4 linked regions of the Homo sapiens genome follow. The protein of the gene in region 1 interacts with the protein of each later gene in a pairwise test. Each region holds a gene or a part of one and is shown in the gene's direction. Other genes may lie near its edges.

Region 1 (7,026 bases):
AGTGCCAAGACCCCTCTCTGGCTTGCTGTCTACAGCTGTGCATGGCCCTGAGGCTTCTCTGGCTTGGGGGATGCTTGGCCTCTGCCTTGTTTTATGTTGCTGCCATTAACCTTCAGCCTGTTTCTGTCTGCTTCTTCACCTGCTTGATTGATTGGGTTTTTTCCTTCCCCGCGTCTTTTATTATCTTGGAAATGGTGACGCCTAAAAGTTTAAAAGTAATCTGGGAATAACGTACAGAGCAGGCACGTGGGATTTGGGCTCTTTTTTTTTTTTTTTTTTTTTTTTTTTTTTGAGACAGAGTCTCACTCTGTCACTCAGACTGGAGTGGAGTGGTGCGATCTCGGCTCACTACAACCTCTGCCTCCCGGGTTCAAGTGATTCTCTTGCCTTAGCCTCCTGAGTAGCTGGGATTACAGGCACCTGCCACTACGCCTGGCTACTCTTTGTATTTTTAGTAGAGATGCAGTTTCACCATGTCGGCCAGGCTGATCTTGATCTCCTGACCTCAAGTGATCCACTTGTCTCAGCCTCCTGAACTGCTGGGATTACATGTGTGAGCCACTGTGCCCGGCTCCTTGCTGTTTTTATACTTTCTCCATATACATAACTATTTCCCATGTAAGTTTTTTTTTAATTTCTCATTTTTATTACTCCTGCATCATCTGTTACCCTGAAGGATCTGGAAGTAAGAGGCCCTGGGCTGAGGTGCAGTGACTTTGCAGGCCAGCCCTCCAACCTCCTCTCACAGTGGGGGCTGGGTGACCCTCTGCCAGCTGAGACAGCCCACACACACCCCAGCCCTAATGATTGTTCTCTCTACCTCTCCCCACAATCCTCTTCCAACTCCTCCTCTCTGCATGTGCCTCAGAGCCAGTACCAAGAACTAGCAGTAGCCCTGGAGTCAAGCTCAGTGACAATCAGTCAACTCAATGAAAACATAGAATCATTGGTAAGTCCAGTGGGGTCCCCTGATTCCATGCTGCCAATCCTGGGCTTTAGTTTCCCCTTGGGGCCCTGAAGAAAGGGGCTGGGGGCCCCTGGTGCCAAGGGCAAATGGGGAGCTGGAGCACCCAGGCCTCACCTGGAGGGACCCCAGAGCAAGGAGCACGCAGCATGGCTCTTCTGTCACTGCCCTCTTTGCCGACTCTCTCTTCTCCAGACACCCCTGCTCCAGTCCTTGCCACACACGCCCTGAGGTTGTCACCTCTCAGGGAAGCGCTAGCCTGACTGGTTGTCAGGGGCCCTGTATTTCTGCCCTGACTCAGTCCCTAATTTGCTTTGAGTCTGGACAAGCCACCTGTCCTCCTTGGGCTTGTGTTTCTGGAGGAGGTAGAGCATCAGAGTTCTCTGTTAGCTCTGAGAGCCTGAGATTTAAAGGCCCCTAGAATGGAAACCTGAGGGCCAAGGGCTCCTGTCTGTCCTTTTCCATCCTATATCTGCTGTGAAGAACCGTAGCTGGCCCGTATGTGTTCAGTAAATATTTGTTGAATGAAGGCACCTTTCTAAATCACAAGCTGGCAGAAGGGTGGGCCTTCCTGAGACTCCCTCTCTAGGGGTTTATGTTACTGTCCTTTCAAGAGAATCCAGATTCAGACTTCGAGTTCTGTGGCTGTGGGCAAAAACCAACAAAGACCCAAGTCCTCTGTCCTTGGGAGCTTGAAGAGGGTTGACCAGTTTGTGTTGCCATTGGTTCTGAGAATGTTGCCTTTAAAATCCATTCCTGGACCCTGCCTACCGCTTCCAGGTCTGGGGAATAGAGTTGAGGGGGCCACTCTCAGTCACCTGAATTTGACTCTCCCCACAGAAACAGCAGAAGAAACAAGTGGAACATCAGCTGGAAGAAGTAACGTGATTTCTTTGCTCACAACATGACTGCTGGGTTTGGGGGACACTCAGATGCAGAGGCGCCAGTCTCATCTTGCCCACTCCCAGCCTGGGGAAGAAGGCTCACCCATCAGATTCCACCCCATCCCCACAGGGTCCCTGATAACCTGGTCCCATGGGTGGGCCTGTCCTGGGGCATTGGTGGCATTCTGGGGGCATGTCTCTTGCTGTGCCATCTCTGCCTCCCTGTGATAAGAGCTCTGTCTTCCTCTTCCTACAGGCAAAGAAAACAAACAATGAAATACACAAAGCACAAATGGAGCGGTTAGAGGTGAGTGGAGGGTGGGGAGCTTTCTCCTGTCCTCTGGAGAATGTTTCTTTCCTTCTCTTTCAGCATTTCCTTGGCTTTTCTCCCAAACGTTCAATTCCAGACAATCAACATCCTCACATTGGAAAAGGCAGACTTGAAGACCACCCTTTACCATACTAAACGTGCTGCCCGACACTTCGAAGGTGGGAATCTGGGCATCCCGTCATCCTTCAACCTGGCACTTTGACAGGTCTTTAGGGGGAGTCTTTTGGGCCCCATCTCAACCTCTCTCATTACAGAAGAGTCCAAGGATCTGGCTGGCCGCCTGCAATACTCCTTACAGCGTATTCAAGAATTGGAGCGGGCTCTCTGTGCTGTGTCTACACAGCAGCAGGAAGAGGACAGGGTGAGTCCAACCAGCTGCCCCATCCCCTGGCAGCCTGGCTTCCCAGATAGAGGAGTGAGCCTAAAGGTCCCTTCTGCAGGATGGAGTGTCCTGCCCAGAAGGCAGCATGGTCATTTCTCACTACTTTTGTGTATGGTTGTTAGAGGCAGCCTGGGGCTGAGTCAGCTGCTGTGGGTGAGTTGGGGGGCACTGTGGGGAGTGAGCACTGGATGCAGAGCTCAGAGGCCAAGTGCCTGCCCTGCCCTTTCCTGGCTGTGGCCTTGGCCAAGTCCTAGGTGGGGTATTGGGTAGTTGTTCTGTGAAGGTACAGAAGAGCACCTTTAGTATGTTACCATTTCTGTAGAGAGAGGAAAGGGGTGTGTGTGTGTGTGTGTGTGTGTGTGTGTGTGTGTGTACTATGATAATATACAAAAACATGTCTGCAAGCATTCATAAAAAACTCAGGAGAGAGTAACAGGGTGCCTGGAGACACCTCCCTTCTGTACCTTCTGAGTTTTGGACTATATGAATGTATCATCCTTTCAAAAAGTGAACAAAAGATTAATTTCCCCCTTCCTATCTGTGTCCCCACCCCCAGCAAGAAAAATGGGCTTAGAGAATAGGATAGACCTGGGTGTTCAAATCCCAGCTCTGTCTAAGTGATCTTAGGCAAGCACTTAACCTTGAACACTCGATGTTTTTCATCTACACAATAGAGGTAATCCTAGTAACCGTCTCATATGGTGGTTGTGAGGATTAAATGGGATTGCTAGCATGGAACCTGGTGAAGCACTCCATAACGGTTCAAACAGTGGTAGTAATAACAGTAATAACAATAGCAATATTATCTGATCTCTCTGGGCCTCTGTTAGCCAGCTGTAAATTCTATCTCTTTCCCTCTCCCTTCCAACTTTACTGAGTTCTTTTAATAACCAGGCCACGGGCTTGGAAATGCCTTGACCTTTACTGACCGAGTTGTATATTGAGCCTAGCCCTTTTAAGGGGCACTGCCTGAGCTCCCCAGATCAAAACTTCTCACTCTTCACCATCCAGTCCTCGAGCTGCAGAGAAGCGGTCCTCCAGCGGTGGTTACAGCAGACCATAAAGGAGCGGGCGCTGCTGAACGCACACGTGACACAGGTGAGGCTTTGCAGAGGGAGGGATGTGGAAGGAAGATGACCCCAGGTGGCCAGGAGCAGGTGAGGACCAGTGACAGCCCTTCCTAACTTCTGTGCCCATTTCTTGCAGGTGACAGAGTCACTAAAACAAGTCCAGCTAGAGCGAGACGAATATGCTAAACACATAAAAGGAGAGAGGGCCCGGTGGCAGGAGAGGATGTGGAAAATGTCGGTGGAGGTGAGGTCTGACCCTTCAGCCCCCACTTTAGATAGGTCACTGGATCTTTCTGGGCATCTGTAAAATGGGAATAGTACAGCCAGAGGTGGTCATGGGTCTGGGCTTTGTGGAGATGGGGACAGAGAATGAGATGGTAGCCTGTCCAGCCACCAGCCCCTCTCTCCAGGGCCCTTTCCCCTGTGCTTTGGGCAGGCTCGAACATTGAAGGAAGAGAAGAAGCGTGACATACATCGGATACAGGAGCTGGAGAGGAGCTTGTCCGAACTCAAAAACCAGATGGGTAAGATGGGGCTGGTGTGACCTCGGAGCAGGACTGGCATCAGAGGTCTGTGGGGGTGGCTTAGAATGCCCCAGGGAGGTGGGTGGGTGGAAGGGCTTTGAGGCAGAGGGAAAGAGGTCTGTGCCAGGAGACGGCAAGTTTTGTCATCTCCATGAGCCTCAGGGTCCCCATCAGCAAAGAGGGAGGAGTGCCCGTTGTCAGCCACCCACAGTGCTCTCTATGTGAAAGTGGCTTGGAAATTGGCTACCATTGGGTGCGAGGAATGATTAGCAGTGAGGCCAAGTTTGGGAAGCCTGAGAGGAGCTGTGCATCAAGAGGAGGTTTTTTTTTTTTTTTTGAGGGGGATGTGGGTAGAGGGGTTGGGGAATCCAGAGGCCCTTATTGTCTGCTTCATTTCTCAGCTGAGCCCCCATCCCTGGCGCCCCCAGCAGTGACCTCTGTGGTGGAACAGCTACAAGATGAGGCCAAACACCTGAGGCAGGAGGTGGAAGGTCTGGAGGGAAAGCTCCAGTCCCAGGTGGAAAACAATCAGGCCTTGAGTCTCCTTAGCAAGGAACAAAAGCAGAGACTCCAGGAGCAGGAGGAGATGCTCCGAGAGCAGGAGGCGCAGAGAGTGCGGGAGCAGGAGAGACTGTGTGAACAAAACGAGAGGCTTCGGGAGCAGCAGAAGACGCTACAGGAGCAGGGTGAGAGGCTGCGAAAGCAGGAGCAGAGGCTACGCAAACAGGAGGAGAGGCTGCGAAAGGAGGAGGAGAGGCTGCAAAAGCAGGAAAAGAGGCTGTGGGACCAGGAGGAGAGGCTGTGGAAGAAGGAGGAGAGGCTACAAAAGCAGGAGGAGAGGCTCGCGCTCTCCCAGAACCACAAGCTCGACAAGCAGCTGGCCGAGCCACAGTGCAGCTTCGAGGATCTGGTGGGTTGCCCCACCTGGGGAGCCTGCCCTCATCCCTATCCCTCCAGGCCTTTGTTTCCCCACCTGTAAAATGGGCCAGTGTAGCCCTCACATGAAATGCTACTTCTAAAGGCACCTGTGAGCTACAGCTCATCGGGCTCTGCTCTGATGGCTGTGGGGGAGAAGGGATGATTTTTCTAACCTGCCTCCACCCTTCCTGGTGATATGGGAGGCAGACACCAAGGTCTGGTGTCTCCAGCTGCAGTGGATGGCCACTGATTGCTTCTCTCTGTCCAGAACAACGAGAAAAAGAGCGCACTGCAGTTGGAGCAGCAAGTAAAGGAGCTGCAGGAGAAGCTAGACGAGGTGAAGGAGATGGTAACCTCCACCCCATCCAAGAAGGGCTGGGAGGCGGGCACCAGCCTCTGGGGAGGGGAGGTGCCAGGCCAAAGGCAGCTCCAGCTGGGAGGCAGGTGACCCCAGCACCCTCCAGTGCAGCTCTATGACTGTTTCTTGCTTCCTGCCCTCTGACTTTTAGAGGTGGGTAGCCCTGGGCTCCTCCCAGGTCTGGACATCATCATCCCAGCTAGAGACATGGAGCCCCCAATCACAGGGGAAGAGACAGTGGTACAAGAGGCTCCTTATCCAGGCACGGTGGCTCGCACCTGTAATCCCAGCACTTTGGGAGGCTGAGGCAGGAGAATCACTTGAGGTCAGGAGTTTGAGACCAGCCTGGCCAACGTGGCGAAACCTCACCCCTACTAAAATTACAACAACAACAACAAAAAATTAGCCAGGCATGGTGGCGCATGCCTGTAATCCCAGCTACTCAGGAGGCTGAGGCACGAGAATCGCTTGAGCCCACGTGGTGGAGGCTGCAGTGAGCTGAGATTGCACCACTGCACTCCAGCCTGGGCCACAGAGTGACACTGTCTCAAAACAAAACAAAAAAGCCTCCTTAGATTCAAACTGGATTCTGGCCTGGGTTCCACTGGTCACCATTCAACTACTGTTCATCTCTAAGTCTCTGTTTCTGTGACTTCAAAAGGAAGTTAGCATTTTCCTTGCAGAGGTGCTGAGGATTGAATGAGAGAATACCTGGAAAGCATTAGGCATGTAGCACACTTAGCAGATGGTGGTTGGCTCCCTCTGCTTTTCCACCAGTCTGTGGCCTACAGTTTAAATGGTGGGAAGAAGGACATGAGATTTGAGGCTGGGGAAGGAGGTATGGGGTTCTAGGCAAGGGAGGAAGCCTCTTAGGCCTGGAGCAAGGGACCAGGGTCCTGGGCAGGTGACAGAGCCCCACGGTGCCCTCGCTACCCTATTAATGGGCCCAGAATCTGGAAGCCAGCCGCCATGTGCCCTCATGCCCAGGGTCTTCCTGCAGGTGGAGCTGAAGAGCCAAGAGTCTCAGAGTCTGCAGCAGCAGCGAGACTAGTACCTGGGTCACCTGCAGCAGTACATGGCCACCTATCAGCAGCTGACCTCTGAGAAGGAGGCGCTGCACAGGCAGTTACTGCTGCAGACCCAGTTCGTGGACCAGCTGCAGCAGCAGGAAGCTTGGGGCAAAGCGGTGGCTGAGATGGCCGGACAAAAGTTGCAGGAGACCCAGGGGAGGGAGTTGCTGAGGACGGGGCCCCGAGGGGGATGACCTGGCAACCTCCGTGCCTTCTCACTCTGTTTCCCGTCCCCTTAGGAGCACCTAGAAGCTGCCAGCCACCAGAACCAACAGCTAGAGACCCAGCTAAGCCTCGTGGCTCTCCCTGGAGAAGGTACAGGAGACCACTCAGAGGAAGAGGAGAGAGCCCCAGGAGGAAGGGGGGACTGTTAGCAGCATAGGATTGAGGGGTTGGAAGAGACCTTTAGAACAGCTGGTCGTTATGCCAACCGGGTGTCCGCACTAAGTTCAGCATCAATATGGTGACCTCCTGGGAGCAGGGGGCCACCAGGTTGCCTAAGGATGAATGAACTGGACCAGATCA
Region 2 (7,026 bases), on another chromosome or scaffold:
GAGTACTCAGAACCTACTTGGATCGTTAAGCCCCACAGCAGGGATTGTAGAAGAGTATTTACGGTCCAAGGGATACTCCTTTCTTCTTCAGACTTCAGTTAGACCTACTAAATCAGGGCTAATTAATTGCTCAGTATCCTGAGGGCCCAAGAACACAGGCCTCCTGAACAAAGAGGCTGGCCTTCCTATAGAGGACATCCACATCTGCTTTCCAGCCACAGGGAATCTGACATATTAACAGATTAAATTTTCATGTCCTTCTTCCCAGTATGTCCATTTGAATATAAACATCCAAATATAAGAGTCTTGGTTGATTTTCCTTTTGGAAGAACTCAACATATTACTTTGTAGATAACTGAACAAACTAAGTGCTACAAGTTGAACCCAAATAGTCTGCACTGAGGGAGGCTCATTTCCAGTTCTCTCTGAATGTGCAGATTTGTATTCCCAAAGGACCATGAACCCAGACACCTTCCAGCCCACTGTTTCCAGCAGAGTGGTCAAGGCCAGAGGCTTCGGAGTCAGAGGTCCTGGTCCAATAGGGGCTTTTCCACTGGCATGCTGGGTAGCTTTGAGCAAGGGGCTTACCTCCTTTGAGCCTCAATCACCTCCCCTATAAAAAGGGAATTTAGTATTTACCTCATAAGGCAGTTATGAGGACAATGTGAAATGTAATGGTACTTGGTTCATAATAAGGAGCTCAGTAAATGGTAGCTATTAGTATTATTTTGTATCCAGATAGGCGAAGACCTATTGAATGTTGGACTGTTTAAGTAAGGATATATATATTTTTTTTCGAGACAGAGTCTTGCTCTGTCGCCCATGCTGGAGTGCAATGGCGCAATCTCAGCTCACTGCAACCTCTGCCTCCCGGGTTTAGTGATTCTCCTGCCTCAGCCTCCCAAGTAGCTGGGATTACCGGCACGTGCCACTACACCCAGCTAATTTTTTTTGTAGTTTTGGTAGAGACAGGGTTTCACCATGTTGACCAGGCTGGTCTCGAACTCCTGACCTTGTGATCAGCCCGCCTCAGCCTCCCAAAGTGCTGAGATTACAGCCATGAGCCACCGTGCCCGACCTAAGTAAGGATATTTTAACTGACGTTTCTCCAGTTCAGTAAATGCACTTCTAGGGTAGGAACTCACTGTGTCCCTAGTGCTGGAAAGGCTTCATCTGCCAGTGCATTTAATCCTAGAATTTTATTATTTTTAAAAATGGCAGTTGAGGTAAATTACATGCCCCATTCATTAAAAACACCAACTTACTTTCCAGAAAAGGTTACTAAGATTGCTTTATTTTATTTATTTATTTATTATTATTTTTTGAGACGGAGTCTCTCACTGTCGCCCAGGCTGGAGTGCAGTGGCACGATCTCGGCTCACTGCAAGCTCCGCCTCCCAGGTTCATGCCATTCTCCTGCCTCAGCCTCCCGAGTAGCTGGGACTACAGGCGCCCACCACCGCACCCGGCTAATTTTTTGTATTTTTAGTAGAGATGGGGTTTCACAGTGTTAGCCAGGATAGTCTCGATCTCCTGACCTTGTGATCCGCCCGCCTCGGCCTCCCAAAGTGCTGGGATTACAGGCATGAGCCACCATGCCCGGCTATTTTATTTTATTTTATTATTATTATTATTTTTGAGACGGAATTTGATCTGTCGCCCAGGCTGGAGTGCAGCAGTGCGATCTTGGCTTATTGCAACCTCTGCCTCCCGGGTTCAAGCGATTCTCTTGCCTCAGCCTCCCGAGTAGTTGGGATTACAGGTGCACACCACCATGCCCAGCTAATTTTTGTATTTTTAGTAGAGCTGGGGTTTCACCGTATTGGCCAGGCTGGTCTTGGACTCCTGACCTCAGGTGATCCACCTGCCTTGGCCTCCCAAAGTGCTAGGACTACAAGTGTGAGCCACCACACCTGGCCTAAGATTGCTTTTCAGTATACCCAGGTTGGTAATCTATACTCTTTTTCTGCCTCCTTCCTTTAGAAGTGCACTTGAAAAAAAGAACAAAGCAGATGAGAGTATTCAGTGGCTGGAGATACACAAAAAGAAGTCTCAAGCAATGTCCAAATCTGTGACCTTGCGTGCAAAAGCCATGGATCCCCATAAAAGCCTGGAGGAAGTGTTCAAAGCAAAGCTGAAAGAGAACCGGTCAGTGTCCTCTATGTGTCAAAAGGGGTGCTTGCCTTGGGATCCAACAGACCACTGGCCTATTGCCAGAAAATGCAAAATAGAGTTATCGAGGTAGGTAGGCTCCTGTAATCACAGCAGGGTCATGATTTTCCAAGTCAGATAGGAATTTACAGTGTACACGAGAGTTACACTGCTTTACTGGAAATGAAGGGTATTCTGGATTAGAAAAGATGAAATTCTTTCTAAAAGTCTTGCTAATTCCAGGAACAATGACCGTAAAAGAGCGAAAGAATATAAGAAAGAACTGGAGGAAATGAAGCAGCGAATACAAACAAGGCCCTATCTCTTTGAACAAGTTGCCAAGGTAAAACTAAACCATCATTTGTTTTCTTTCTGCCTTAGATAAAAGGACTCTGAAAAATTACAAAACAATTTTAATATGTGGGTATTAAAATTTTCCTTGAGGCCCAGAAATTCTAATTTCACTACTACCTTCTTTTCCCAAAATAAATAGTACAATAGAGAATGCTGCTTGTGTTGATTTCATCCAAGAGTGGACTCCAAAGGCATCGATAAAGGGATATTTCACTTCCTAGAGCTTTCACTGTAGTCTACCATTCAGATTTCATCAGACTGGGCATTAGACCCCAGAGACACAGGGACCATTTGGCTCTTTCTATGCTCTGGAGCCACTGTTCACAGTGCTGGAAAGGTATCTCTCCTCTGGCAGTGCTGCTGGCCCTGGGCCTCCCCAGCCTCTAGAGCTGTGGTATATTTATAGGTCTCCAAGCATTAGGATGCCCACAAACACCCTGCAAGGCTTTCTCTAGACTAAGTGGCTTTCAGGCTGGAAGCCTGAAATTTTTTTTTCTTCTTTTATTTTGTATGCATGTGTATGTGTGTGTGAGTGTGTGTTCCTTATGGAGCAGGGCTAACCCATAGGCAGTGTACCCGAAGTATCCTGGAAGAGTATCATTTTAAGATATTCTCTGTAGACTTTTAGGGATGTTGGACTCAGCTGAGATCTCCGTAAGGATGTAAGGATGCTCTGTTTCTACTGCATTAGGCTCTGTGGATCTCTTTCCTCTCCAGTTTCAGACAAGTTGGGGTTCCATAGTGACCTAGTTCCAATGGCAGGGCATTAGCTCCATCTTATAGTTAGTACATTGTCTAGGCATTTGCTGGCTCCACTTCCTCCTCCCTCCATAAATCTTTCTCCTCTCACACACATAAGCACACATGGTCTTGGATTTACTTAGCAACCTGCATTGTTCAAAATCTCATGCTTCTTTATGTTAATGTTAAGCAAGCTCACTCTTCAGATCTCAACAGATCTTTCACCTCTCTAGGAAAAATACAAAGTACTCTATGATTTTGTTCTTGAATACTTAAACAAAAAATAATATTCTGCTGGTCCACATGCAGACCATCTGTCCTTCCACTAAGAGTCTTGGTGTAGCTTATTTTCTATTTTATTTTAGTGTTCCTGATAATGGTTTGTTGCTTTAAAATCTTAGGTTTTTAGTCCATCCTTTTAAATCTGGGTCTCATTTGTCTCCCAAAAGTCTAAGTCATTGCTTTTCAAAATTGTGACTCCCAAATCAACAGTTTGGCATCTCTGGGGAGTGTTAGAAATACAGAATTACAGTCCTCATCTGACACCTACCAAATGTGAAATCTGCATTTTAACAAGACCTCAGGTGATTTATATACACATTAAGGCTGGAAAACAAGGGTTAAATAATTTTCTTGCAAATCTATGCCCCACAATAAGGGTGGTGGTGGTTGTGGCAGTATTGTAACAATACTGATTAAGTAATTTAGAATTGTCTGGTAATTCATAAGACAGCTACAACAGATTAATTTCCATCCCACAGGATCTAGCCAAGAAAGAAGCAGAACAGTGGTATCTAGACACCCTGAAGCAGGCTGGGCTGGAGGAAGACTTTGTGAGAAACAAGGGTCAAGGCACCCGGGCTGTTCAAGAGAAAGAGACCAAAATCAAGGATTTTCCCAGGTAACCTGAAATGTTGCTGTCATTCTGCAGCTCTCTAAATTGTCATACCCAGTAATACCACTGGGAGGAAACTTTAGAATAGCCACTGGTATTTTGAGATCATAATCCTGTATTTATGTAACATTAATAAGTAATCCAGAGATCTCCAAGTAACACATTTGAATTTAGAGAGTGATGCAGTTGTGAATAAAATCTGACAAATTATGTTTCGTTTTCTTCCATTTTGAAACAGATCATTTTCCAATTCCAGTTCCAATTTCATGAGCTGAAACTATTTCTACTTTATTTTTGAAGAAAAATCATGTATATTTTGACTTCTTATAAAACTATAAAACTGTTTTTCTAGCATTCCTTAAAGGTAGCTCATTAGTATCACCTTCTCCATAACCTTTTTTTTTTTATTTTTTGTATTTTTTTTTTGAGACAGAGTCTCACTCTGTTGCCCAGGCTGGAGTGCAGTGGCGCGATTTCTGGCTCACTGCAAGCTCCGCCTCCTGGGTTCACGCCATTCTCCTGCCTCAGCCTCCCGAGTAGCTGGGATTACAGGCTCCCGCCATCACGCCTGGCTAATTTTTGTGTATTTTTAGTAGAGACGGGGTTTCACCATGTTAGCCAGGATGGTCTCGATCTCCTCACCTCGTGATCTACCCTCCTCAGCCTCCCAAAGTGCTGGGATTACAGGCGTGAGTGACCGCGCCCGGCCCTCCATAACCCATTTTGATATTGAGTCAAAGGGAGAAAATAGTATCTTCTCTCCATTATTCTCAATTGTTTTGTATCTTAAATCCTAGCAGCCCCTACCCTAATTCCTATCTCAGTTTTATACCCCTAGAAATTTTCCTTTACATCCCATATAAAATAGTAATAATGTTGAGACTTTTTTTTTTGAGACGGAGTCTTGCTCCGTCGCCAGGTTGGAGTGCAGTGGCGCAGTCTTGGCTCACTGCAGTCTCTGCTCACTGCAGTCTCCGCTTCCCGGGTTCAAGCGATTCTCCTGCTTCAGCCTCCTGAGTAGGTGGGACTACAGGTGTCCACTACCACGCCCAGCTATTTTTTGTATTTTTAGTAGAGATGGGGTTTCACCATGTTGGCCAGGATGGTCTTGATCTCTTGACCTCGTGATTCACCTGCCATGGCCTCCCAAAGTGCTGGGAGAGACCGTTCTTAAACCTTACACAGTGCTTTAAGACTTTCTTTTTTCAGACTGGGCACGGTGGCTCACGCCTGTAATCCCAGCACTTTGAGAGGCTGACGTGGGTGGATCGCTTGAGCCCAGGAGTTTGAGACCAGCCTGGGCAACATGGCAAAACCCTGTCTCTACAAAAAGTTAAAAAAAAAAAAAAAATTAGCTGGGTGCAGTGGCACGTGCCTATAATCCCAGCTACTTGGGAAGCTAAGGTGGGAGGATTGCTTGAGGTGGGAGGGTTGCTTCAGCTGGGCTGTCCAGGCTGCAGTGAGCTGAGATCATGCCACTGCACTCCAGCCTGGGTGAGAGTGAGACCCTGTCTGAAAAAAAAATTTTTTTTGTTTTTCATGTTTTAATTTATTCTGCAGGTTCCAAGAAACTACAAAACTCAGCATCAGAGATCCAGAGCAGGGTTTAGAAGGATCTCTAGAACAGCCTGCAAGCCCCAGGAAAGTACTGGAGGAGCTGTCTCATCAGTCACCAGAAAATCTCGTATCACTTGCTTAATCACTACACTTAAAATTACTGCTTTTGAAAAATATTAAGCAGCTAACTTGGGTTTGAGTCAAGGCAGGGAAAACTTGGGTTTTGAGTCATGGCTACTGTTAGAGGATGGACAAATGAAGAGTAGCAGATTAACAGGCCAGGCGCAGTGGCTCACGCCTGTAATCCCAACACTTTGGGAGGCTGAGGCAGGCAGATCATCTGAGGTCAGGAGTTTGAGACCAGTCCAGCCAACACGGCAAAACTCCACCTCTACTAAAAATACAAAAATTAGCTGGGCGTGATGACACGTGCCTGTAATCCTAGCTACTTGGGAAGCTGAGGCAGGAGAATCACTTGAACCCAAGAGGCAGAGGTTGTAATGAGCTGAGATCACTCCACAGCACTCCAGCCTGGGCAGCAGAGCAAAACTCTGTCTGAGAAAAAAAAAGAGCAGCAGATAACAGAGAATAGTTCAAGGAAATCAAAGTGGGGAGGCTCAGGTGGAGGGATGGTAGCCTAAAGTTAAGGGTTCCTGCTTTGTGCCTCACACTTAGAGAATTAGGTACAGAAAAGAGAGCACAGGCCCAAATGCCTATAAGGGGCTAGTGCAGAAACATAAATGCGTCCATGGAGTGGGTGTAGACAGTAGGAGATAGTAGACACTGGAAAGTATCAAATCCTGCTGGAATATAGGCTCAGAGTTACTACATCAACTACATTTTCATCAAGCCAGAAATTTGTATGCTATCAACTAATTTAAAAATTACTTAGAAATATTGTATGGGCAAAATAAAATACATCTGCATATCAGATCTAGCCCATGGGGGATGAAAAACTTACAACTTCTAGTACAGGATTTCTTATCCTCAGTGCTATTAATATTTTGGGCCACCTAATTCTTTGTTGAGGGTTGGGGAAGGGAACTGTCCTGTACATTGTAGAATGTTTAGTAGCATCCCTGGCCACTACCTGCTAGATGCCAGTAGTACCCCTCTCCCCAGCTGTGACAACCAAAAATGTCTCCAGATATTGCATATCCCCAGGGGGCAAAAATGTGCCTGGCTGAGAACCACTGCTCTAATATAAATGGCTGCATGAAGCAAAAACTGGCATTCTAAGAATACAAGTAATTGCCATGAACACAGTCTATGTACTATGTGATTATGCATGTCATTAACAAATTAAGAATTTAAAACAATTCTCTCCC
Region 3 (7,151 bases), on another chromosome or scaffold:
CACTTCTCAGATGGGGCGGATGCTGGGCGGAGGGTCTCCTCACTTCTCAGACGGGGCGGCTGGGCAGAGACGCTCCTCACCTCCCAGACGGGGCGGCGGGGCAGAGGCGCTCCCCACATCTCAGACGATGGGCGGCCGGGCAGAGACGCTCCTCACTTCCCAGACGGGATGGCTGCCAGGAAGAGGCGCTCCTCACTTCCTAGATGGGATGGCGGCCGGTCAGAGACGCTCCTCACTTTCCAGACTGGGCAGCCAGGCAGAGGGGCTCCTCACGTCCCAGACGATGGGCGGCCAGGCAGAGACGCTCCTCACTTCCCAGACGGGGTGGCGGCCGGGCAGAGGCTGCAATCTCGGCACTTTGGGAGGCCAAGGCAGGCGGCTGGGAGATGGAGGTTGTAGCGAGCTGAGATCATGCCACTGCACTCCAGCCTGGGCACCATTGAGCACTGAGTGAACCAGACTCCGTCTGCAATCCCGGCACCTCGGGAGGCCAAGGCTGGCGGATCACTCGCGGTTAGGAGCTGGAGACCAGCCCGGCCAACACAGTGAAACCCCGTCTCCACCAAAAAAGTACGAAAACCAGTCAGGCGTGGTGGCGCGCGCCTGCAATCGCAGGCCCTCGGCAGGCTGAGGCAGGAGAATCAGGCAGGGAGGTTGCAGTGAACCGAGATGGCAGCAGTACAGTCCAGTTTCGGCTCGGCATCAGAGGGAGACAGTGGAAAGAGAGGGAGAGGGAGACCGAGAGGGAGAGGGGAGAGGGGAGAGGGGAGAGGGGAGAGGGGAGAGGGAGAGGGAGAGGCAGAGGCAGAGGCAGGGGCAGGGGCAGGGTAGCAAATCTTTTTTCTAGATAGGACTCCCCAGCTTCTCTGTGCTTTTAAGTCTCTGAAGTTGTTTTCACATTATCAACATAACAAACTCATTGGCAGTGGGGAGTGGTTTAGAGTCTGGTTTCTTTGTTTCTATTATTTAAAGCATAAGCATTTTATTAGTCTCAATTCCATTGTGAACTGCTGAATTTTCATCCCTAGTGTGAGAAGGTCACAATAGTATTTGTTTCAATAGATAACTCTTTCTCCCTGTGCTGTTTCTCACTGAGCTGTGGTGTTTATGCCTTAAGTACCTGTGTTATATGCTACATGTTGCTTTGAATTCTGGTATTTATGCATATCTGTATATGTAAGTATGTTAATGTACACTGATATTTTGCTGTATTTGCCAGTATGTTTATGTGAAAATTTTGGTCTTGGAAAATGGTGGGTGATGTGTAGCTTGTTATTTGGGTGTGTGTATTTATTTGTATATATTTATGTATTTACCTTCGTATTGTTTGGAGGTGTGCTTATGTCAGTGAACGAGAGTACAATTTGATGCATGTATGTTCAGTCCCTATTTGTATTTAAAAATAACTCACGTTGATGAAGTTATTTTTTAAAGTTAATTTTTTTGGCATTTACAGTCGGTGCTCTGTATCCATAGGTTCTGCTTCTGCAGATTCAGCCAACCATATATCAAAAATATTTGAGAAAAAATAATATAAAAAAATACAAATTAAAAACCAATACTATATAACAACTATTTGGATAGCATTTACATTGTAGGTATTATAAATAATTTAGAGGTGATTTAAAGTATTTGGGAGAATCTGTAGGTTATATGCAAATACCATGCCATTTTATAAAAGTGACATGAACATCCAAGGATTTTGGTATCCATGAGGGTTCCTGGAACCAATCCCCCAAAGATACCAAAGGAAGACTGTATTTTAAAATAAAGCTACTTCTTTACCTTTTTGTCAACTATTGCCTTGGGTTTACTTATTTAGGAATGCACTTCTGCAGAAAGTTTACCAATGTGTTATTGATCTCGAGATTGTATTAAAATAAAAGATTTATTTATTGTTTTCCTTTATTTAGTGAGTATTTCTGACTATTATTATGGGAATTAAATTGTTTATGCATTTATTTATTTAAAATGTAGAGCCATGATAGAAATTTGAAGGACATTCTCAGTAACTTTATGTCCTGTTAGAGGAAAGATTTGAAAGCATACTGGCTGGAGAGGCAGAAGATCTGGGTTCTGGTTTCTACTTAGTTTGAACTTTCTTGGACTTAGTCTCTGTATCTGTAAAATGAAGGACTGAATTAAGTTATCCTTACAGCCTTTTCTAACTCTTAAATTTTAGGATTGATTCTTAATGGTTTAAGATGTGTTAACAATGGAATTACCCTAAATGTCAAATCCCATTGTTTTTTAGGTAATAAAAATTATACTGAAATCATTTGAAGATATATTTAGTCATTGTAGAAAGGCAATTAAATACCCCTGCTTTACATAATTGAAAAGCAAGTAGTGTTTCCTTCACTAGGAATATAGAGTATAAAATCTCTTAAAAATTATTCTTAATGTGCACCAAAATTATTTATTACTGTTTTTTTGAGATGGAGTCTTGCTGTGTTGCCCAGGCTGGAGTGCAGTGGCAGCATCTTGGCTCACTGCAACCTCTGCCTCCTGGGTTCAAGTGGTTCTCCTGTCTTGGCCTCCCAAGTAGCTGGGATTACAGGTGCATGCCACCACACCTGGCTAATTTTTGTATCTTTAGTAGAGATGGGGTTTTACCACATTGGCCAGGCTTGTCTTGAACTGACCTCAAGTGATCTGCCCGCCTTGGCCTCCCAAAGTGCTGGGATTACAGGTGTGAGCCACCGTGCCCAGCCTCGTGTGCACCAAAGTTAAAATGTCTGAGAAAGAGGATGAAAAATTTTAAAGTTTTAGGGCCGGGTGTGGTGGCTCACGCCTGTAATCCTAGCACTTTGGGAAGCTGAGGCGGGTGAATCATGAGGTCAGGAGATCGAGACCATCCTGGCTAACACGGTGAAATCCCGTCTCTACTAAAAATACAAAAAATTAGCCGGGCGTGGTGGTATGCACCTGTAGCCCCAGCTACTCGGGAGGCTGAGGCGGGAGAATCGCTTGAACCTGGGAGGCCGAGGTTGCAGTGAGCCGAGATGGCGCCATTGCACTCCAGCCTGGGCTACACAGTGAGACTCCATCTCAAAAAAAAATTTTTAAAACATCCCTCCCTATTTTACAGCTAACGACATAGATTTTATAGGTTACAATACAAACTATTTCCTTTATGTTGGAAAATGATTTGAGGAAATGATTTTATGTATATTCATGATTTCTGCCTTGAACGTTTTACTTCTTTGTTAGTTTCACAGAATCAGCTTGAAGCTGTAATTAAAACTAAAAAAGTAAAGCAAAACTGCCAGGAATATTACATGACACTTTAAAAGATTTATTCAGAAGTTTAATATATTCACAAGGTACAAACTTTAAAGTTACAAAAAAGGCATAGAGTGAAAAGTCTACCCCAGTTCCCTGGTCACTCATTTTTGCTCCAGCCACTCACTTCTGCTCTTTGTAAGCGATAGTCTTGCCAGTGTCTTGTGTCTCTTTCCAGAGACTATGTAGAAGCAAATAATTTTTTATTTAAAAATGTTTATATTTGAATAGGTGATACATATAGATGGCAAGAAAATTCAAAAGGGCAGGCAGTGAAAATTTTCTTCGCTCACCCACAGTTCCCCAGTTTCTGTGTTTCCCTCTGCAGAGACAGTCATCCTTTCTTATATATCCTTCTGGATGTTGTCTATAAATATGGAGGCATTGTTAGTGTAGAGCATGGTGGTTTTTATGAGCCATCCCAAGTGTAGTATTTATTAAGATAGTGCATTAAAATGATAAAATTAATCATACATAGAAAATTACTGCAAAGTTTGGAAAAGATTGAGTAAAGTAGCTATTGTACTACATGGCTTTCGAAATTTCAAACAACACAGGTGTGCACTTCTTAAACTCTCTTCTTTATGGAGTATTATAATCTTAGTATAAATAAGTAGGAAGACATGAAACAAGAATATAGAAATTAAGCTGAGGACATTTTGTTTCCAGGATCTGGGAAAGAAAGAAGTTTATGAACTCACAAGTGATTGTAGAGCATCTCTGTGGAAATAAATGGTTAAGTCGGTTTGAAGCAAAGCCCTTCTGGGGCAGAAAAGCCTCCAGAACGCCAGATGTCGCTGTGGTTCCGCGGTGAGAGAGGGCGTGCGTCTCTGTGGTTATAAAGTTGGGGGTGGAGTGGCCGGGAGATGATGGCTGATGAAGAGGAAGAAGTCAAGCCGATCTTGCAGAAATTGCAGGTGGGGCCGTAGATTAAATTCTGTATGTGTTTTTGTTACTCCGAATGAAGCAGGGAGTCCAGTTTATGTACTGCCCGTGAATTCCTCGGCACACACGCGAAGCTGCGTGCGTCTGTGTGGTTACTATAACAACCCTCGAGGGTGCAGCCGCAGCCAGCCAGGGAGCCTCGTTGGAACCTCCTGCTGCCGACCTGACTGCGGTTAATTTCAGTCCTGTATGGAAGAAGATTTGTTGCTCCTAACTGTTCATGTACATTTTTAGAGAGGACGTTGTTTTCTCGATTCATCCATAGCGAATAGCATATACATGTGTGTGGCAGATCTGCATGAACTACTGTCACATGTTGTTTTGATCCCTACAAAAGCCATTTAACACCTTTCTGCTTTGAATTTGGCAACAATCACGCTAATGACCTGCACTGCAAGTGTCCTGGTTACTCCCCTTAGGATTTCAGTTTTGATTTCTTTCAACCTGTGTAATTCCACTTTGGGGTCTGATGCAGAGGGGTCCAGACTCCACATAGTCCACAGGTAAGACTAGTCTTTTGGACTTGGTAGGGAGGCGTTAACTAGTTGCTTGGCTCTTTGCCTTTAAGAACCCATGATTTTCCTTACACCTCAGGAACTCAGTTCTTCGTTCTAAGGCAGCCTGTAACTTAAATATTAGAACTATGACAGGCTTGTAACTTGCCTAAAGGTGTTTAACGCACAAATTTAAATACTGGTGAAATTTCTTTGTTCTTGGGTACATTAAAATAGTAACACTTTTTAGAGTGTTCCAGCTGATTTGGATTAACTTCATTTTATTCCCTAACTGTGACTGGCTGAAATCAGAGATTCTCAATTCTGGTTCTATATTAGAAACATTATTTGTGTATATATGTTTGTATATGCACAGAAAAAAATCTGAAAAGGTATACAAATCAGTGGTTATCACTGAGGTTCTTTGGGGTAATTTTGTACTTTCTTTTTTTTACATGTATCTATTTGAATTTTAACAACTTACATGTATTGATTTTGCCATGAAAAAATAAGTTTCTAAAAACATTCAGTCCAGAGGAAAACAAAACCAAACAATAAAACCAAACAACTTCTTGAATGTTTGGTTTAACAACTAAAACCAATCAATAAGCCCTTCTCTAAAACTCTTAATTTGCAGCCATGTTGATTGCAGGACAAAAGGAAATTGGTTGTAATTTTTTATGAGAATTGTCTTTTCCTAGGTTCATTTGTGGTAAATGTCCTAAGCAGCTTGGGAGAGGATACTTCCGTTATCTTGGGGTGGGGTCGGTGCAGGAATGGAATAAAGGAGTGAAGTAGAGAAGAGGAAAAGGATTAGATAATGGTGTTGCTGTTCATGGAGATGGTGGTAAACTTTGATTTCATTGTTAAAGACATTTTAGTGTAAAAAGAGTGTATAAATGGATATTTCTCAAAGTGTGTTTTACAGACAGTTTCATTACAGTCATCTGGGGTGCCTGTTAAAAATGTAGAATTTTGAGTTCTGCTAAACTGTTAAAATCAGAGTCTCTGCAGGCTGGGTCTTGGATATAATACAATAAAATTTGCAGAGGGTGCTAGTCTGTTCCCTTCATTCTGGATAGGATTTTAAATTAAGTATAGCACATATGTATTTGTTAGAACAGGGATAGTTAGTTAGTTAATTCAATCAAGTGTAGTGAATTAGAGCCTATCATGTCCCAAGTCCCGTTCTGGTGCTCAGGTGTAGCTCGAAACAAAACAGATTAAAGGCCTTTCCATCCTGGAGCTTACATTTCAGTGGTGGAGGCAGACAATAGACAATTAATGATAGGCCACATGATTTTAAATAAGTATGAAGAAAAATAAGAGTATGATATAACAGTAGAGGAGAGAAGGAATGGATTCATTTGGGTTGAGTAATTAGGGAAAACCTTTCTGGAATTGATATTTGACCTAAGATCTAAATGATGATGAGGAATAAGTTATGCAGAGATCTGGAGAAAGTGTCCAGGCATAAGGTCTTCCAGGTGGGCTGAGCTTGATGGGTTTGAGAAACTGCATGAAGGCAACTCTGGCTTGAGTATTGTAGGAGAGAGAATGGTGAGAGGTGAAGTTTGTGTCAGGATGGGTGGTGGTAGGTCAGCTCATACAGTCTTCTAGGTCATGATAAGGACTTGGATTTTATTCTGTCTGCAATGGGAAACTATTTGAAGGTTTGTGATATGATGTACGTTTTTTATAAGATCACTCCCACTACAGTGAGGAGAATGGGAGAGAACAGAAACAAGATGACTGGTTAAGAAGCTCTTGCAGTCCAGGCAAGTAATGAAGCTGATGTAATCCAGGAATGGTCATAGTGGGATGGAGACAGGTGGATGAATTCAGGATGTGTTGTGAAGATTGTTGATTACACTCGAAGGGAAGTGATTATATCTTTCTGCTGCTATCTATTTAGTTTCAGGAAAGAATAGGATATCTGTTATCTGAAATGCTTAGGACTCGAAGTTTTTTGGATTTTGGATTTTTTTGAATTTTGGAATATCTGCATATACATAATGAGATAACTTGGGGATGGGACCCAAATCTAAATATGAAACTTGGTGGCTTATGCCTGTAGTCCCAGCACTTTGGGAGGCTGAGGTGGGAGCATTGCTTGAAATCAGGAGTTTGAGACCAGCCTGGGCAACCTACGAGACTCTTTTTTTTTTTTTTTTGAGACGGAGTCTTGCTCTGTTGCCAGGCTGGAGGGCAGTGGCATGATCTTGGCTCACTGCAACCTCTGCCTCCCAGGTTCAAGCGATTCTCCTGCCTCAGCCTCCCGAGTAGGTGGGACTACAGGTGTGCGCCACCATGCCTGGCTAATTTTTGTATTTTTAGTAGAGACCGGGTTTCACCATGATGGCCAGGATGGTTTCGATCTCTTCATGATCCGTCTGCCTTGGACTACCAAAGTGCTAGGATTACAGG
Region 4 (7,026 bases), on another chromosome or scaffold:
AATACCAGCACTTTGGGAGGCCAAGGCAGGCAGATCACTAGGTCAGGAGTTCGAGATCAGCCTGGCCAATATGGCGAAATCCCGTCTCTACTAAAAAGTACAAAAAATTAGCAGGGCATGGTGGCACACACCTGTAGTTCCAGCTACTGGGGAGGCTGAGGCAGGAGAATTGAACCCGGGAGGCAGAGGTTACAGTGAGCCAAGATCGCACCATTGCACTCCAGCCTGAGCAACAGAGTGAGACTCAGTCTCAAAAAAAAAAAAAAAAAAAAAAAGGTGATACAGTAGCCCAAGGAACAGAGAGCAGATAACCTGGTGATACTAGGAAGTCAACAATTAAGAGAGATGTCAACTTTAAGAAAAAAAAAAAAGAGCTTTTTAACATCAAGTTGAGCTAGTCGTAATCTTTAACTACCAGAATTCAGAAGATTAAAGTTTCTATAGTGGGAATGTAAATTAGTACAACCACTATGGAAAACAATTTGGACGTTCCTCAAAAAACTAAAAATAGAGCTACTACATGATCCAACAATCCCACTGCTGGGTATATACCCAAAAGAAAGGAAATCAATGTACCGAAGAGGTATCTGCACTCCCATGTTTGTTGAAGCACTATTCATAATAGCCAAAATTTGAAAGCGACCTAAGTGTCCGTCAACAGATGAATGGATAAAGAAAATGTGGTACTTACACACAATGGAAGTACTATTCAGCCACGAAAAAGAAGATCTTGTCATTTGCAACAACATGGATGGAACTGGAGATCATTATGTCAGGTGAAATAAGCCAGGCACCGAAAGACAAGAGTTGCATGTTCTCACTAATTTGTGGGATCTAAAAATTAAAACAATTGAACCCATAGAGAGCAGAAAGATGGTTACCAGAGGCTGAGAAGGGTGGTGGGAGGGTGTGGGGGATGTGGGGACAGCTGATGGGTACAAAAAATAGTTATAAAGAATGAATTATCCAGCACTTTGGGAGGCCAAGGCAGGTGGATTGCTTGAGCTCAGGCACTCGAGACCAGCTTGGGCAACATGGTAGAACCCTATTTCTACCAAAAATACAAAAAAGTAGCTGGATGTGGTAGTGTGCATCTGTGGTCCCAGCTACTCAGGAGGCTGAGGTGGGAGGATCACTTGAGCCTGGGAGGCGGAGGTTGCAGTGAGCCGAGATCACACTACCACACTCTAGCCTGGGTAACAGAGCCAGACCCCATCTCGAAAAAAAAAAAAAAAGAATGAATTAAGACCTAGTATTTGATAGCACAGCAGGGGGATTATAGTCAGTAATTTAATTGTGCAGTTTAAAATAACTAAAAGAGTACTTTGAGGGGCTGAGGCAGGCAGATCACTTGAGCCCAGGAGCTTGAGACCAGCCTGGCCAATGTGGCAAAACCTCGTCTCTACTAAAAATACAAAAAAAAAAAAAAAAAAAAAAAAAAGAGCTGGGCATGGTGACATGCCTGTAATCCCAGCTACTCAAGAGGCTGAAGCATGAGAATTGCTTGAACCTGGGAGGCAGAGATTGCAGTGAGCTGAGACTGTGCCACTGCACTCTAGTCTGGGCCACAGAGGGAGACCTTGTCTCAAAAAGAAAAAAAGAAAAGAATATAATTGGATTGTTCGTAACACAAAGGATAAATGCTTGAGGGAATGGATACCCTGTTTTCCAGGATGTGATTATTACACACTGCATGCCTGTATCAAAACATCTTATATACCCCATCAATATATACACCTACTGTGTACTCAGAAAAATTAAAGTCTTCACAGTCACAAAAAAATAAAAAAGTAATTTTTTAAAAGTTTCTATAGCAGTAGTTGGTGCTAGTGTCAGCTGAAGAAGAGCTTCTAATGTTCATTACTTTTCACTAAAATGAAAGCACTTTGACCAGTATGGTATGTAATTCTCAAGGATCATTCAGATTTTTTCCCACATAGCTATTTTTGGATTCCTTTTGATCCTATAAAATGTGCGTTTACTTAGTGTTTCCTAGTGATTAAATATCCTTTTAAATTTACCAACACGTTGCTCAAGAAAGAAAACATATTTTGCAGTGAGGATTCTCAGTCCTGGTTGTACATTAAAATCACCTGAGGAACTTTTTTAAAACATTGATGCCTGAGCCCTACTTCAGAACTGTTCAATCAAAATCTTTGGGTCTGGGCATCTGAAATTTTTAAGGCTCCCAAGGTGATTCTAATGCATAATAAATGTTGAGGACTATTGATTTAGATGATAAAATTATAGATTTGAAATTTATTTTTAAAATTTGTCTTCTGTTGCAGCAATTGACATGTGGTCTGCAGGTGTCATATTTCTTTCTTTGCTTAGTGGACGATATCCATTTTATAAAGCAAGTGATGATTTAACTGCTTTGGCCCAAATTATGACAATTAGGGGATCCAGAGAAACTATCCAAGCTGCTAAAACTTTTGGTAAGCAGTTTTGTATTATAGAACCAAACAAAATGCCTTTGATTATCTCCTACAAATCACTTAATAAATTATTGTGAAATTTTCTTTACAAATAAACATTCAGTCTTGATAAAGTTCTCTAATATTAAGTAGAAAATTCTTCAGTTGCTTGAAAATAAATTTATCACCTCTCTATACATATAATCATTTAATCTTATTAAGCACAAAGTAATACACTGTTGCAGTATTTAAAGTTTACCTTTATAATTTTATAAGAATAAGGAGTAAAATCTTAACTCCTTTTAGTTATGGTTTGACTTTTATTACATAAATTTACCTTTTATTAAAGGCATGTTTTACTTTGTAATATGTTTTACTTTTTTATTGTCTTTTAAACATCAGATGCACTATGTCTTGGTACTTAGAGTGTCCTTGCCTTAAATGATCTTAGGCTATACTAACAAGTAAACAGTTAATTATTAATACAGTGTAATAAGGACTAGGGAAGAGAATGGAAATGTGTGTTGTCAGGTTGTGTAGGTTTACGGTAGCAGAGAAGCAGAATGCATAGAAGGCCTTAACTGATGGGATATTATTGTAAGCATATATTGGACTTGGATGTCATCTCCTTAGCCACGCAAGTTCTTCAAGACTGGGATGTGCAGTGTACTTCATAGGGCACATAAGAATTATCTCAGCCTTGCTCTGGCCAACAATCTGAACTCAAGTGCCCATTTAATGTTTATTTTCCACGCTCAGTTATAGTTAATACTTTCCAAGGAATAAGTGGGATTGACTCAGCTTACTACCATACAATACAGAACACCTCAGGAGACAAAGTTTCAGCCAGCCTACCTCAAGAGTAGCTGGGCTGTCTTGTGCTCAACCCCAGGATCAGTGGGTCTTAACCAGAGTTGCATGTCAGAATTATCTGAGAATCTTTAAGAAATACATATGCCTGCCCACTCAGCCTATTCTTGGAAAATATGATTCAGAAAAACAAGATACTTAGGAAGGCTCCAGCCTTGTTAGTTTGAAAAAGCAAGTGATTCTGACTAAGAAACTATGGGTGTTTAAGAACCACTGCAAAAATTACTGCCCTTGCTTATGCACTAGTGCTATAGTCTAATCTACAAGAAAAACTTAGTGGTGGTTGTGAAGAAAGCCTCATCTTAATAGAGGCTTGCCAAAATATGTTTCTACAGTAAAGTCAGTCCACGATTTGTAACTATCTTGTACTTATTGTAAGAAAATTTTATTTGAAGATAATAGGATGAAATAATACAAGGGAAAAAAAGTGACCATGAGTGGAAAGCAAGATTGATATCTTAGAAATGGCATTCTTACATAATAATATAACAAGTATGTTTATTCTCAACTGAGAAAACTTTCATCTACTATTGAATAACTTCGTGAGAGGTTTATGAACATGAAGTTTATCAGCCAATACCAACATATTTTATTGAAGAGCTTGAATCTCCCCCATTGTAATCCAAGTTATAATCAGGGCCAACAATGGAAATACAACATCTGACCCAAAAATACTCTAGATCAAGTGCCATGATAGCAAGCAAGAGCTTTTAGAGATTTATCATTGTAATACTTCTCATATTAAAAAAAAAATAGGGCCAGCCGTGGTGACTCACACCTGTAATCCCAGCACTTTGAGAGGCTTAGGTGGGCAGATCATGAGGTCAGGAGACCGAGACCATCCTGGCCAACGTGGTGAAACCCCATCTCTATTAAAAACACAAAAATTAGTTGGGCATGGTAGCATGCACTTGTAGTCCCAGCTACTCGGGAGGCTGAGGCAGGAGAACCAGCTGAACCTGGGAGATGGAGGTTGCAGTGAGCCAAGATTGCACCACTGCACTCCAGCCTGACGACAGAGCAAGACTCTGTCTCAAAAAAACAAATAATAAAAATAATGCCATAGGACTTGTCTCAGTTGTATTAGTATGACATCTGTAGTTATTTTAGTCTTGATCTTACTATAACTTTGGACTGAGTATAAAAGCCTCAAAATTTCAACAAACACAACTGTGTTCCCCTTTGTAACCTAAAGAAATGACTTGGCTGAGATTAGCAGTGAGAGCACCTTTACTTCTCTTATCTGTCCTCAACCCTTAAACCTGGCTCCATTGTGGGTTGTCATTAAGTACTCAGTGAATTGTGTTGAATAAATTAAAAAGAAAAGTCTTGAGCTGAAACAAATTCCTGACACATAGTAGTCTGTAATAAAATATGTTGACTGATAGTGTTACTTGAAGTTATTTTTCCTGAATATTGTAAATGAACCCTCTTTTTGGTCATATAAAAAAAAGCATATTGTATAACTTGGGGACATGCTATAACATATACTATTAGTTATTTTATGACTTCAGAACAAGCTAATAAAGGAATAAAACTATATGAATATTCCCCCCTGGCTATAATTTTCTAGAGAGAATAGGAATGATAGAATCAGTTTAAAAGTAAAAAAGCATTGGCATATTGTACTCTCAAAGAATTTGGTCTTCAGTAATTGTTTGTTTCCTCCCTTTCCCTCCCCCATTTTTTTCCCTGGCTTAGTACACCAGTCCAGTAGTTAGTTCAGAATATGTAAAGGTAACTTTTTATCATCCACAGTCAGATTAATGACTTTGTTGACAATCTACATTCTCAGAAAGGCATCTAAATGTTGTGGTACTTGTTGTTTCGTACATTTAGTATATTTCTGTTTAATAAGGAAATGTAAGGCAAAAATAATACATGATTGCCATTTGTGTGATTAACTTTTTTTTGCACATCTGATAATAAACCCATCAGGAAGTTATTTCAAATACATTTATATTTTTAAAAACAGATCTAGTTTGTTTATTTGTTCATTCAGAAACATTTATTGGGGCTTTATGTGTGCCAAGTACTATTGCGAGTCTCTGCTTTCACAGAGCTTAAATTCTAGTGAGGGAGAGAACATAAATAAATACTATGAGAAATGAGTGGTACTGAGATAAAAGGAAAAGGGGAGGGAAGAGGCTTATTTAGGATAGGTTGGTCAAGAACAGCATCTCTAAGGATGTATGTGTCATTTGAACAGTTGTTGAAAAGAATAATGCCTTTTTGTCTAGTCCAACAGACATTAACTGACTACCTAATCTGTACCAGGCATAGGCTGGGTTTGGGGGGTTCAAAGATAAATAAGACAGTTCCTGCCTTCAAAGAGCTCAGTCTACTAGGTGGGACAGACATATATAGGATAGCAAAAGTAATAGTAGAACTCTCAAGATACAGTAGAAACTGAAATTGATCAGTTCTCTCTGAGGGTGTCAAGCCTCAGAGGTGATTCTTGATCTGAGTGGTGATGTCAGTGAGAGTGTCCTGGGCACACAAGGGGTGCAGGGCATCCTAGGCAAAGACAGGAGTCATGTAGTCAAAGACATAGAAGCATGGAAAGGAAGTAGAGTGGGGGCGTGGGAGCTGCAGCTAGTTAAAGATTATAGAAGGGTAAGATGAAGCTTGAGAAATTGGCAGAGTCAAGTGAGTGCCTGGCATAGCTTAGTAAGTCACTGCTTTGTACTTACTATCTCCCACTTTATCTCCCACTATGCAATTCAAATACAACTTAAATATAGCATGTGGTGCTCTATCTCATACTGTGTGTGTGTGTGTGTGTGTGTGTGTGTGTCCATGTCTATAAAGCATATGTTTGAACTTTCATGTTTCTCATGAGAGAGGCTTCTGATATATTCAAATAATAAAATGTTTTTTTCTGTTTTTGTTTTTTCTTCTTTTGCTTTTAGGGAAATCAATATTATGTAGCAAAGAAGTTCCAGCACAAGACTTGAGAAAACTCTGTGAGAGACTCAGGGGTATGGATTCTAGCACTCCCAAGTTAACAAGTGATATACAAGGGCATGCTTCTCATCAACCAGCTATTTCAGAGAAGACTGACCATAAAGCTTCTTGCCTCGTTCAAACACCTCCAGGACAATACTCAGGGAATTCATTTAAAAAGGGGGATAGTAATAGCTGTGAGCATTGTTTTGATGAGTATAATACCAATTTAGAAGGCTGGAATGAGGTACCTGATGAAGCTTATGACCTGCTTGATAAACTTCTAGATCTAAATCCAGCTTCAAGAATAACAGCAGAAGAAGCTTTGTTGCATCCATTTTTTAAAGATATGAGCTTGTGATAATGGATCTTCATTTAATGTTTACTGTTATGAGGTAGAATAAAAAAGAATACTTTGTAATAGCCACAAGTTCTTGTTTAGAGACCAGAGCAGGATTAATAATTTATTTTAACATTTTAGTGTTTGGTGGCACATTCTAAAATATAGATTAAGAATACTTAAAATGCCTGGGATAGTTCTTGGGACTAACAACATGATCTTCTTTGAGTTAAACCTACCTAAGTAGATTTTAGGTGGGTTCCTATTAGGTCAGATTTTTAGCTTCCCTAATTACCTTTCACTGACATATACAGAAAAAGGAGCAGTTTTAGTTTTAATTAATTAAAATTAACAGATGTGATGAGGATTAAATGAATCAAAAGACTTAATTTGTAGATTCTTTTAGAGTTATGAGCTAGGTATAGTTTGGGGAAACTCAACCTGGTGCTGGTG

Evidence for each region.
Region 2: the proteins of GOLGA6A (region 1) and FAM161B interact in binary tests that used the Homo sapiens proteins (3 or more experiments, as listed by UniProt).
Region 3: the proteins of GOLGA6A (region 1) and TTC5 interact in binary tests that used the Homo sapiens proteins (3 or more experiments, as listed by UniProt).
Region 4: the proteins of GOLGA6A (region 1) and CDC7 interact in binary tests that used the Homo sapiens proteins (3 or more experiments, as listed by UniProt).

The regions. Positions count from the first base shown.
Region 1 is NC_000015.10:74,072,532-74,079,557, reverse strand, and holds part of GOLGA6A (golgin subfamily A member 6A), read left to right. Parts: intron 1-868; coding exon 869-949; intron 950-1,804; coding exon 1,805-1,843; intron 1,844-2,104; coding exon 2,105-2,155; intron 2,156-2,255; coding exon 2,256-2,337; intron 2,338-2,433; coding exon 2,434-2,540; intron 2,541-3,572; coding exon 3,573-3,659; intron 3,660-3,767; coding exon 3,768-3,875; intron 3,876-4,067; coding exon 4,068-4,155; intron 4,156-4,556; coding exon 4,557-5,065; intron 5,066-5,341; coding exon 5,342-5,410; intron 5,411-6,740; coding exon 6,741-6,816; intron 6,817-7,026.
Region 2 is NC_000014.9:73,933,070-73,940,095, reverse strand, and holds part of FAM161B (protein FAM161B), read left to right. Parts: intron 1-1,983; coding exon 1,984-2,148; intron 2,149-2,394; coding exon 2,395-2,494; intron 2,495-4,007; coding exon 4,008-4,147; intron 4,148-5,701; coding exon 5,702-5,840; 3' UTR 5,841-7,026.
Region 3 is NC_000014.9:20,302,938-20,310,088, reverse strand, and holds the start of TTC5 (tetratricopeptide repeat protein 5), read left to right. Parts: upstream 1-4,137; 5' UTR 4,138-4,151; coding exon 4,152-4,202; intron 4,203-7,151. UniProt on the Homo sapiens protein: Cofactor involved in the regulation of various cellular mechanisms such as actin regulation, autophagy, chromatin regulation and DNA repair.
Region 4 is NC_000001.11:91,517,842-91,524,867, forward strand, and holds part of CDC7 (cell division cycle 7-related protein kinase), read left to right. Parts: intron 1-691; exon of another isoform or gene 692-834; intron 835-2,288; coding exon 2,289-2,438; intron 2,439-6,199; coding exon 6,200-6,594; 3' UTR 6,595-7,026. UniProt on the Homo sapiens protein: Kinase involved in initiation of DNA replication. Phosphorylates critical substrates that regulate the G1/S phase transition and initiation of DNA replication, such as MCM proteins and CLASPIN.